Regions from separate parts of the Homo sapiens genome. Here regions 1 and 2 are each linked to region 3. The links come from fine-mapping of genetic effects on gene expression. A gene starts in region 3. Each other region holds a variant in brackets. All regions are shown on one strand. Distances are from middle to middle.

Region 1 (4,130 bases), 150 kb before region 3:
CTGTCCAATATGGCAGCTACAAGCCACGTGTGGCTGTTGTACACTTAAAATGTGGCAAGTCCAAATGGAGATGTGCCATGTGAAATAAGCGCTGGATTTCAATAACTTAGTATGATAAAAGAATAGAAAATCTCATTTTTATGGATTACAAGTTAAAATGAAAATATTTGGGGGCTGGGCATGGTGGCTCACACCTGTAACCCCAGCGCTTTGGGAGACCAAGAGGGAGGATTGCTTGAGCCCAGGAGTTGGAGACCAACCTGGGTAACAAAGTGAGACCCCATCTGTACAAAAAATACAAAAATTAGCTGGGCATGGTGGTGTGTGGCTGTACATATAGCATGAGGCTGTAGTTAATTCTTTTCCATTGTTCTGCAGTATTCCATTGTAAAAATATATCGCAACCTATTATCCATTCTCCCGTTAATGGACATTTGGGTTGTTTCCAGGTTTTGACTATTATGAAGAAAGCTGTAGTGAACATTCTCATACATGCTTTTGGAGAAACTCGGTGCTTATTTCTGTGGGTATATATACCTGGGAATGGAATTGCTAGGTCCTTGGGTGGCTTATGTTTAGCTTTAATAGATACCACCACCAAACAGTTTTCTAAAGTGTTTGTGCTAATTTATACTCATATTGGCAACAAATGAGCATTCTAGTTGCTCTTTATCCTGGCCAATGGTGTTACCAATCTTTTTAATTTTAGCCACTCTGGTAGATGTGTAGTGGTTTTAATTTTCATATCCTTGATGACTAAATGATGATACCTTTTCATTTGCTTATTGGCCAGTCAATCCTCTTTTATAGAATGTCTGTCCAAGTTGTCATTCTGGTCTTAAATTGAGTTGTATGTGTATGTGTTGATTTGTAGGAACTCTTTATATATTACAGATATAAGTCTTTCATTGGACAAAAACTATATTTATCAAGTATCTTTTTCTAGTCTATAGGGCTTGACTTTTAAACCTCCTAATGGTATTTTTATTGAACAGAGGTTCTTTTAATGATGTGCAGTTTATCAGTCTTTTTGTTTATGGTTTGCTTGGTTTTTGTCCCATTTAAGAGATACTCATCTCCCCCCAAGGATCTGAAGGTATTTGCCTATATTATCTTCTAGAAGCTTTAGTGATTTATCTTTCACAATTAGGTTTATGATCTTTCTGGGATTAATTTTTATGTGTGGTGTTAGAAGTCAAACCTCATATTTTTCCATATGGATATCTGATTGGCCTCGCTCTGTTTCTTGAATATGACCATGTAAATCACAAAACCGTCAGTGTGGGTCAGAGTCTTCGAATTTGCTATCCTGAAGATGCTTCAGTACATCCTGAAGATTTACTTCCTGAAAATGAATGCTCTAGGACCCTGAAGGTTGTGACTGTGCACCTGCCAACTCAAGCTGAAGGCTGAAGAGGAAAGCTCTGCAGCCCCTTCCTCAAGCTGGAGGCAGAGTGACGTCTGCTGGGGATGCAGGCTGTGCGCCCCACAGGACTCCAGAGTGGCACTAAGCATGTTGAGTTCACTCCTGCCCATGGTCTAGCTTCTGCTTTGCAGGCTCAGGCATCTTATCTTGCCAGGGCCTCAAAGCTGGTGGGACAGAATAGCATCTTTGCTCACTAAGCTCTGACCCACCGGCCTCCTTGCAGCTCTGTAGTCCAAGCGAACTCCTTCCAACATCAGGCTTCTTTGAAAAAAAAATTTTTTTTTGAGGCAGAGTCTCACTCTGTCACCCAGGCTGAAGTACAGTGGTGCAATCTCAGCTCACTGAAACCTCCGCCTCCTAAGTTCAACTTATTCTTATGCCTCAGCCTCCCAAGTAGCTGGGATTACAGATGCCTACCACCATGCCCAGCTAATTTTTGTATTTTTACAAAATTATGGGGTTTCACCATGTTGACCAGGCTGGTCTCAAACTCCTGGCCTCAAGTGATCTGCCCACTTTGGCCTCCCAAAGTGCTGGGATTACAGGCATGAGCCACCGTGCCCGGCCCAGCTTCAGGGTTTTACATTTGCTGTTCCTTCTTTCCCGACTCACTTCATTGTTGTCTCAGCCTTCCCTGACCGGACCCCCGTAGCTCAAAAGCACCATCCCCAGTGACTCTCTGTCCCATTCATCTGCTTGACTTCGCTTATAACACTCATCACTATGTGCAATTACAGTATATTATCTCTTTGTCTCCTTGTTTATTTTCTGTCTTCCTTACTAGAATATTAGC[T/C]CTATGATACAGAGCACCAGGCCTGTTCACTTCTGTATTGTCAGCACCAAGCACTGTACCTGGGAGAAAGTAGGCATGGATGAATAGTTCTTGAACTCCCAAGAGACTCTTGAGATGCCAATTCCTAAGTTTATTTTGTTCCCCCATCCTAGCTATAACGCTGTTTGGAATGGTTCTTTTTCTTGGTATCTCCAGCAAGTACCTGGCCCAGAATCATACAAGATGTGTGAATAAATCATGACCATCCCAATGTCTTTAATATAAAATAACAAAGATAAGTCAAGGGGACTTGAAGGAAGGAGACAAATGTGAAACTTAAGATTATGGACGTTCAGGCGAGGCGTGATAGCTCACGCCTCTAATCCTAGCAATTTGGGAGGCCAAAGTGGGTCAGCGAAGTGTACCATCGAGTGGACAGGGTGGTCAGGTTGGTGTGATCATGGCAGGCTCTGCCTCTGTGCCAGCTACAGGGGACTCTGATTGCTGGAAGGTTGCTTAGCGAATGTGACATCTAAGCGCTTGGTGCTGAGTCCGATGTGAGAATCTCGGATCCTGCCCCCGTCCTGTGTCTGTCTCACAGGGAAGTTGTGGATTCATTCACTGCTTATTCAGTAGGTAGTCACCAGGTGCCACTGAATAGCCTGCCAGCTCATGTGGGCCTGCTGGGCTCCTGGCCTGTGGACAGTGCCAGGCTGTGCCCTGCATATCTGCCCCTGTGGTCCTCATCTTTCTATACTTCTATCAGTTAGCCACGTGCTTTTTATTTGATGTTATTTTGGGGGAGATGTTGGGGTCACTGTCAAGTTTTATAGTGTAGAGGCCCATTCAGTCTTTCTTTTAAAAACATTTATTTTTAATTCATTGAACCCAAAGCACCTACTATAAGCCAAGCACCATGTTAGGTCCTAGGGGTAGAGTGATACAACAGGACAGACAAAGGCTCTTTGGGGACAGACATTAAATTAGACAAATGATTATCCACATCATAATTACACTTGTGCTAAGCACTGGGAAGGAGAGGTGCAGGGAATAGGGGCCTCTCAAGGGTGACGCATGTCTGGGATCTGGGGGTTGTGAGTTGGTTTCAGTTTAACTCCCAAAAGGCAGTGTGAGTTCTAGGACTTGCTCTTAATCACTGCCCCCATGGACCACCTGCCCATGGTATGTGGTTCCCCTTCCACAGTTATGAGTACAGGCAGTTCCTTTGCCTGGCATAATGAGGACTGGCTGGACAAAGTCTCATCCTTCTGAAAGTGTCCCAGAGACCTTCGTCTCACTCCTCAGCCACATTCCTCTTGGGGATTCAGCTGTTGTATATGGTGTCATGAGCCCTTTAGTAACGCAAGGTGGCATTTCTCTGTCTTGGGTCCCTGGTGGCAGTTGCAGCTCTGGTATAGATCCTTAGTCGGTGATGGTTTCTCTCCACTGTTAAAGGGCAGGGTGCTGGCCAGACATGGACCCTGAGTGAGCAGGTTGTCGGAAGGTGGTGGGAAAAAAGGAGAGAAGGGGTCCAGGTGCGGTGGCTCACGCCTGTAATCCCAGCACTTTGGGAGGCTGAGGCAGGTGGATCACCTGAAGTCGGGAGTTTGAGACCAGCCTGAACAATATGGTGAAACCCCGTCTGTACTAAAAATACAAAAATTAGCCGGGCATGATGGCGTGAGCCTGTTATCCCAGCTACTCAGGAGGCTGAGGCAGGAGAATCACTTGAAACTGGGAGGCAAATGTTGCAGTGAGCTGAGATCACACCACTGTGATCCAGCCTGGGCAACAGAGTAAGACTCCATCTCTAAAAGAAAAAAAGGAGAGAAGAGAGAAACAGTGGTGTTCATGCGTGCACTCTCTCTCACACCCTCTCTCTGCTCCCCACCCGCCTGGGGCCAGGGGCACACAGCCTCAGAGCTCTGTCCA
Region 2 (4,130 bases), 92 kb after region 3:
CAGTTTATTCTTTAAAAATATGCTGTGATTATTTTCAGGATCATAATTTCAGTAACATTTCCAGTTTTGCTTTGTTGGCGAGCTTAAAATTATGGAATGGACATTTTATGCAAATTTTATGGTATAGTAAAGAAATGAAGGGACATTTTAGAAAGCATTTAATTCTTTATGTCACTGACACTTGTAAAATTACTTCCTGTCAAACACGTGTTGAAATACAGTTTATGTTGGCAAATATTGGGATTGATTTTATATTAATTTAAATCTGTATTACATTAAAGCCTAGGAAATTACTAAAAAATGTAGGCTATGTGATAAGTTTTTCTGAGCCATTTATGGATTGGGCTTTGAAGATGAAAGTTTGTTAAACCATTGGGAATTAAAGATTCCAGCTGAACATCTCAAGTTTCTGAAACAATACATTTTCTCACACTTTGTGGAATTGTTCTGTGTCATTTACACTTGCTTGGTTCAGCAGGGCGAGCAATGAGGTATTTTTTATTTTATATTTGTTTTTGCAGGGATCTTAGCAACATCAATTGTGAAGAGCTTGGTCCATTGCCTCCTGGATGGGAGATCCGTAATACGGCAACAGGCAGAGTTTATTTCGTTGACCATAACAACAGAACAACACAATTTACAGATCCTCGGCTGTCTGCTAACTTGCATTTAGTTTTAAAGTAAGTTTTTGAAACAATACATGTTAAAATGGGAGTTAAACATGATGAAACGCATAGATGCTTTTAATAATAAATGTGAGTCTCGATACAGTGGCTCACGCCTTTAATCCCAGTGCTTTGGGAGGCCGTGGCAGCAGGATCACTTGAGGCCAGGGGTTTGAGACTAGCCTGGTCAATATAGTGAGACCTCATCTCTACAAAAAAAAAGTTGTTTAAATTAAAAAATTAGCTGGGTGTGGTGGTGTATGCCTGCAGTCCTAGCTACTTGGGAAACTGAGGCAGGAGAATCGCCTGAGCCCAGGAGTTTGAGGCTGCAGTGGACTATGATCACACCACCCCAACTCCAGCCTGGGTGACAGATGGAGACCCTGTCTCTTAAAAAATGAAAGAACATCTACTTTCATCAGTTATAATTTACTTTTATTGAGCAAAATTTATGTAAGAGTGTGACAAGGTTTACTCTGATATGAGTATTTTAAACCTACTATGCTTTTAGGTAGGAACCTGTCTTGGAATGTTAGGAAAAGGGTTATTAGAGGTGCTCAAGATGGCCTTTTACAGAGGCAATATCTTGACAGGAGAAGTAGGGGTTGAACAGGCTAATTTTGTGTTGCCATTGTAATACAAAATTATTAATAATTTATATTAATGGCTAACACCTTAGTAGCACTTACTGTGTGACAAGCATTGTTCTTTATACTTTACATATGTTGGTAAGGCCAGGCATGTGGCTCATGCTGTAATCCCAGCACTTTGGGAGGCTGAGGTTGGAGAATCACTTGAGCCTAGGAGTTCAAGACCAACCTGGCCAACATGTGAGTCCTATTCTCTTCAAAAAATTTTTTTAAAATTAGCTGGTCATGGTGGTGCGCACCTGTGGTCCCAGCTACTCAGGACACCGAGGTGGGAGGATCTCTTGAGCTCAGGAGGTCGTGGCTGCAGTGAGCTGTGATCGCGCCACTCATTCTAGCTTGGGCAACAGAGTGAGACTCTTGTCTTTAAAAAGCAAACAAACAAAAACACCCCAAGTTCGTAATTTCATCCTCAGAAAAACTCTGTGAGTTAGCTACTGCCATTTTTACAGATGAGGAAACTGAGGTATAGAGGTTACATGACTTTCCATACGTTGCCAGTGGTGAAGTCTGGAGTGAAACCAGGATGCTCTGGCTTCAGCTGCCTGTGAGGCACTATACTGAGTATTGTGTGTATATTATTTGCATCCTTTGCTTTTCTTTTCTCTCTA[G/A]CTGCCTCATTTCTTCTAACTCTGTTACTTATTAGCATTGCCTTCTGAAGAATGGGGGCAGGAGGAGGAAAAGAGAGAACAGGAAAACTTCATTACTAAGCTAAGTAGCAAAGTGTCTTTTTCAACACTTCTGGCAAAAACACTGAGAGTGGTATAGCAACAAGGATTTTAGGCTAAGAACTTGGAGAGCAAGGTTCACTCTGACCCCTGAATAATTCATTTTAGCTTCTCTAAATGAATGGTGACATTACCTGCTCTGTCTTATTCATTTGTTGTAAAGTTCTTATGTATGTTAAAATGTTAAAAACACAACAAAAATAATAATATACTTTAAAATGACTTCTGAAAATGTCCTTGTTTCATTAATTTTTGGAGTTAGGTTAATAAAGCAAAAAATTTAAATGAGAACTGGCTACCAGTTTTTTAGGATAATAGGAGAAAACATTGAAAATGTGTATCTTTGGTTCCTTCTTCGAAATATGTATAATTATCCTGGCAGTCTCATTATGTCAGCAGATCTTACTTTATTGTAGATAGAAGATTCTAAAACCTTGCTTACAAATGAAGGTCGCAAGTATTTGAAAGCCCTAATGTAAAAGTATCTGAAGAAACAGAGAAGTATGGACTGTTTCTGTGCATTAGGGTCTTTATAGCCTAGATAGCAAAATAAGTGTCATCTGCAGTCTACCCTTTGAGTAACACTGCTCTAGGGCGCTTGCCTGGTTGTGGAATTGCTATGTCGTAGAATATTTCTATCTTCAACTTTAATGTATAAAGGTAACTTTTCTAAAGTGGCTATGCCAGTTTAGTCTTTTACCGGCAATATATGAGTTCCTGTTGCTGCAGAAGCTTGCCAGTACTTGCTGTTGTTGGACTTCAAAATTTTTGCTGTTCTGATGATGTTTAATGGTTTCCCATTGTAACTTTAACTTGAATTTTCCTAATTACTGATGAGGTTGAGCACCTTTTTATAGGTTTATTGACTATTTGGATTTCCTGTTTTTGTGAAGGTCCTGTTCACAATTTTTTGCCATTGTCTATTGAGCTTGAACAGCTTTTTTTTGGCCTATTGACCAGCTGCATCAACTTTTTTTGTTAATTTATATCTTTTTTGCCTATTTTTCTAATGTAATCTTTATCTTCTAAAATTCACACTACAAGTAAATGTTTTTAATACATTTATAGTTTTGTCTTTTACTGTAAAGTCTTTAATCCATGTGGACTTTACTTTTGTGTATGGATTTTTTTTTTTTTAGATGGAGTTTCCCTGTTGTCACCCAGGCTGGAGTACAATGGCGTGATCTCAGCTCACTGCAACCTCCACATCCCGGGTTCAAGCAATTCTCCTGCCTCAGCCTTCCAAGTTAGCTGGGATTATAGGTGCTTGCCACCACGCCGAGCTAATTTTTGTATTTTTAGTAGAGATGGGGTTTCACCGCGTTGCCCAGACTGGTCTCGAGCTCTTGACACCTCAGGTGATCTGCCCGCCTCGGCCTCCCAAAGTGCTGGGATTACAGGTGTGAGCCACCACGCCTAGTTCTGGAATTTTTTTTGAGATGGAGTCTTGCTTTGTTGCCCAGGCTGGAGTGCAGTGGTGCTATCTCAGCTCACTGCAACCTCTGCCTCTTGGGTTCAAGCGATTCTCCTGCCTCAGCCTCCTGAGTAGCTGGGACTACAGGCGCGCACCACCACGCCCAGCTAATTTTTGTATTTTTAGTAGAGACGAAGTTTCACCGTGTTAGCCAGGCTGGTCTCCAACTCTTGGCCTCAAGTGATCCTCCTGCCTCAGCCTCCCAAAGTGCTGGGATTACAGGTGTGAGCCGTTGTGCCCGGCCTGGGTTTTTTTAAAGGGCATATAGGGGCAGCAAATTGGAATTTGGGGAGATGATAAGGAATAAAAGATGTTGGAGCACTCTACAGAGGGCTTTTGTTTTACTTTTGTATCTTAATTGTTTGTTACCTTTCTGCTTCCCCTACTAGACTTTGAATTACTTAAGAAGACGTGTATCCCATTTATTTTTGCTGCTTTAGTATGTAACATACCCAAAGTACTTGACAAATGTACAATGGTAATCAAGAGCCAGTATGGCTCTCTGAGAGGCCCAGGAAGCCTCCAAGAGGTGGTTGTGCTTTATTTACCTCCTGCCTCCAGGATCATCCCTTTAGGTCAAGCTTGTCCAACTCACGGCCCTTAGGCTGGGCCCAGG
Region 3 (4,113 bases):
CAGGCCCGGCTAATTTTTTTGTATTTTTTTTTAGTACAGACGGGGTTTCACCATGTTGGCCAGGCTGGTCTCAAACTCCTGACCTCAAATGATCCGCCCACCTCGGCCTCCCAAAGTGTTGGAATTACAGGCGTGAGCCACTGTGCCCGGCCTATCTGTGGTATTTTTAGTGTGATGTCTAGAACTTCATATACTTTTTTGGATTACTTTTAATTGTAGGGCTGTATCCAAACTGATGAAATGTTCTCGCAGGTAACTATCTGGAGAAGTGAGTTCACTGATGTATTAAAAGAAATGACTGGCATGGAATAAGGATTAAAATATATTAATCCAAAACATTTAAAATTGCATTAATGTTATAATAGCCTAAAGCAAAACTAACGAATCACATAAAAAATCCCCCACGCTATTGTCCTTAGTAGTTTACATTGTGCTAGATACTTTCGCATGTATATGCATACAACTTCTATTCTGTTTTTAAACTTTGCATTACATATACATTCTTCCATATTATATGATCTTCATAAAAATAGTTACATGGCTGCATAAAAAACCATGCGGTTCCTGGACTATTATGCTATTCCCTCATTCCCCTTTTGTTATTAATGGAATATAGCAAAGAACATCTTCTGTACGATTATTTGTCAAGAATAGGGCCGGTGCGGTGGCTCAGGTCTGTAATCCCAGCACTTTGGGAGGCCGAGGCGGGCTGATCGCTTGAGGTCAGGAGTTCGTGACCAGCCTGGGCAACATGGGAAAACCTAAACGTCTCTACTAAACATGTCTCTACTAAAAATACAAAAATTAGTGGGGCGTAGTGGTGCACACTGTGGTCTCAGCTACTCCAGAGGCTCAGGTGGGAGGATCACCTGAGCCCCGGAAGTTGAGACTGCAGTGAGCCGTGTTCGCACCACTGCACTCCAGCCTGGGCGACAGAGGGAGACCCTGTCTAAAAACAAAAAAATAAAAAATAAATTTCTAGCAGTACAGTTACAATGTCAAAGGATAAGGTACACATTTTTTAAAAACTTTTCTCTTTCTCCTCCTGAGATAACGAAATACAGTAGCGTATGAACAACTCTTCATACATTACTCTCCAAGGTTTATCTTGTTAATCCTTTAAGACGTATCATCTCCCCATCCTTGGCTGCACCTGAAAAGAGCGGGAGTCGGCAGGTAACCTGATCTCCTCCACCAGGTGAGTCCCGGATGGAGGTGTCAACTACAAGACCAGGAGCAGAGCATTCCTGGGGTTTTGCTGGAACCATCGGCGTGGGAATGCTTTCTCTTCCCTCGCCCGAAAGACGCCAAGTTCCCGGCAGGCAGCGGACTCGGTTCTAACCTTCCTCGCCCCAGCCTCTCGGAGCGCCCTGCACGCAGTGGGCGTCTAATAAAATGCAGTTGGCCCTGCTTGGACAAAAGTTCTCCCTTAAGTGGCCCGGACAGTAAACCCCTCCAGGTGCCACAGAGCTGCCGCGCCCGCCGCCGCTTTGCTCCCTGCCTGCTCCCTCCCAGCGTTCCGCGTGGGACCCTCGGCGGCAGCTCACACCCTCCCTGACTGCCGGTGCCCGCCAGGGCACCCTGCGCGCGCCCGCCGGCCCCGCCCCGGCCCCGCCCCGCCCCGCCGGCCCCGCCTCCCGTCTCCTCCCCGCCCCCCGGAGCCGACGAGTGGCGGCGGCGGCCCCAGGTCCCGGGTCCCTCAGACAAGAGGGCGGGTGGAGGAGGAAGCGGCCGAGCCCAGAGTTCTGCTCCGGCGCCCCCGAGCACCGCCCGCTTCAGCCGACCAGCCCCGTCGGCTACTGGGCCTCGCCGAGACGAGAGGAGGGAAAGGCCTCGGCGGCCGCGAGGAGGCGGCGGGGGCGCGGGCGGAGGCGGCGCGGGCGGCCGCGGCTGCCGCTTTGTTGTGCGGCCCGGGCCGAGGAAGGAGAAGTGGGAGGAGGGGGGAGCTCGGCGTCCCGCTCCCTCCGCGGCTCATGGCGACGACTCTCGGCACATCCGGGACCCTCCGGCCGTGGCGGCCGAGGCGCCGGCTGCTCGGGCCCCAGCCCCGGCCGCTGTGGTGACTCCGCCGCGCCTCGCCGTCGCCCCCGTGCCGCCCGCCGCCCCCGCCGCCCCCGCCGCCGGGGACATGTCTAACCCCGGAGGCCGGAGGAACGGGCCCGTCAAGCTGCGCCTGACAGGTGAGGGGGGGCGGCGGGCCGGGCTGGGCAGCCGCGGGGTGGGCGAGCTGGCGGGGGGTGCCTGTGGCCTTGGGAAGGGCCAGGGTCGCGATCAATGATGAGTTGGGGGTCGGAGGAATGGGAAGGCCTAGTTCAGGGAGAGTAATTGGAAAACCACTTGCTCTGGTTTGGACATTGTTTAAAAAGCCGAGGATGACTCGGGGCGGGGGGTGGTGTTTTGTGGAGGGGAGAATACACCGGTTCGCATCGCAGGCGGATTTCAGGTCGGAAAGTCTTGGTCAAGGAGCCAGACGCTGCCTCCCGGGGCTCGGGGAACAGCCCCTGGGCTACCGCCCAGGTGAGATCGTGAAGGGGATGAAGAGCTCCCGTGGCGAGGATTATTGAATCCGGTTGCTGACTGCGCGCAGTAAACACTCCTTAAAGATGGAGCGCTTAACGGGAGGGTGTGCGTGTGTGTTCCCGGGTTGTTACCTTGCACACACCCAGTTATGCCCGCATGAAAAACCTTTACTCCCCGCCGCCGGCCACCGCTGCCCGGGCCACACACCTTAAACTCATGTCTCTGAGGTGAGGAGACAGGTTGACTTTTCCGGTGTGCCTGTCTGATCCGACGGCTTGGGCTCATTGTACACTGTGTTTTGGAAGTGTCTGATTGTAGGGTGGCATGTTTGGGGTTGTTCCTTTTAGGCCGCAGAACTTGTGTCTAACTTCTAACGCCAGACCTGCTTTAAAAACACACTTTTTTGGGGGGGGTGCATTGCTAAGTATGTGCTCATACAAACTTTCGAGCAAACTTTCTGTTACTCTCCCCACCCTCCCCATTCCTTTTTCGAAATGGAAAAGAATGTCCGGAGGGGTTGCCAGATAGAAGACTACACTTACAAAGTGTTTATGATTCCAGGTGCATGAAATCTTTAACATTACAGGTACGTTTTGCTTACAGTGCCATTTTTGGTATTCTTACATGGACATGCCACCCCCGTTTTAGGAGAACTTTTATTTGGTTTGTAAAGGAATTGGAATCACGGCGTTATCCTACCTTCACCATTTACCCCTGATAAATTGTCCACGTTTGTATTCGGGTGAGTGGTGAGAAAGATAATTTTCCGTAGAGGATTTGTGTGTGCGTGCACGTGTACGGATAAACTGTAATTATGTTTGCCCACACTAGACTTTGAGATTTATTTGGACTAATTTTGTAGTTAAATGCCTGTGTGTCACATCCCAGTCCACTGGCTGAACTTGCTGGATGAAAACTTGCAGTGAATTTGGTATTTGAGAATTTAGCTTGAATGTATGTTGGCTGCAATTTAAATAATATATTACTTTCATGGCAGTTTTCCTTTCCCTAGGGAAAATTGCAGGGAATCATTAACTGAGTGATTCTTAATGGAAAACCTGGATTGGAGGATACTTGTATTCCACCCCCTCCCCCCTCATTCAGTGTCCTTACATTGGGAGGAGTCAGTGGAAACCTTTATAGGGGATCTTTGTTGCTTTAGAGTTTATCTGTTGCTGTTGCTGTCTGTAGTCAGTGATCGTGGAAAGAACATGTGATCCCAGGTGTGCAGAAAGCATCAGAAATAGGCTGTTTCCATTTACCCTCCTCTGGGCTATGTAGAGAAAATGAGGGAAAAAATTGGGTTTTTGATTTTCTGCAGATAAGGTTAGTTGAGGTTTTTAGTATGACTTAATAGATCTTAAAGTGTTTATCTGTGGTTTCCGTACTGCCTATGATACATTATAAGAATTTATAATTAAAGTTTATTAAGAGGAAAGATTATGCTTATATTTTAGGGGAAGGGGGAATATTGAACTACATTTATAGTGATTTTGTTTCAGGTTTTTCTGAGGAATTTTAAATACCCTGTGTCCTCTTAATAGTAAAAACAGTTTGAGGTACTCTGAGTTTCTTACAACTATTTGTCTCTGA

What was found. PIP is the estimated chance that this variant, and not a neighbour inherited with it, causes the effect.
Region 1: its variant is fine-mapped to the expression of SMURF2 in whole blood (TOPMed, PIP above 0.99).
Region 2: its variant is fine-mapped to the expression of SMURF2 in whole blood (TOPMed, PIP above 0.99).

Annotation. Positions count from the first base shown.
Region 1 is chr17:64,809,942-64,814,071 of GRCh38, reverse strand. It overlaps the pseudogene PLEKHM1P1. Among named protein-coding and RNA genes, the nearest start is that of MIR4315-2, 10 kb to the left of the region's middle. The variant T/C (reference allele first, on the strand shown) is at 2,220.
Region 2 is chr17:64,568,348-64,572,477 of GRCh38, reverse strand. SMURF2 (SMAD specific E3 ubiquitin protein ligase 2) reads left to right here. Exons shown (of 19, transcript NM_022739.4): 10 at 522-680. Among named protein-coding and RNA genes, the nearest start is that of CEP95, 63 kb to the right of the region's middle. The variant G/A (reference allele first, on the strand shown) is at 1,924.
Region 3 is chr17:64,659,896-64,664,008 of GRCh38, reverse strand. It overlaps SMURF2 (SMAD specific E3 ubiquitin protein ligase 2), which reads left to right and starts at 1,702. Exons shown (of 19, transcript NM_022739.4): 1 at 1,702-2,180. The coding sequence starts at 2,129. RefSeq lists an enhancer at 850-1,408 and silencers at 1,559-1,958, 2,009-2,208.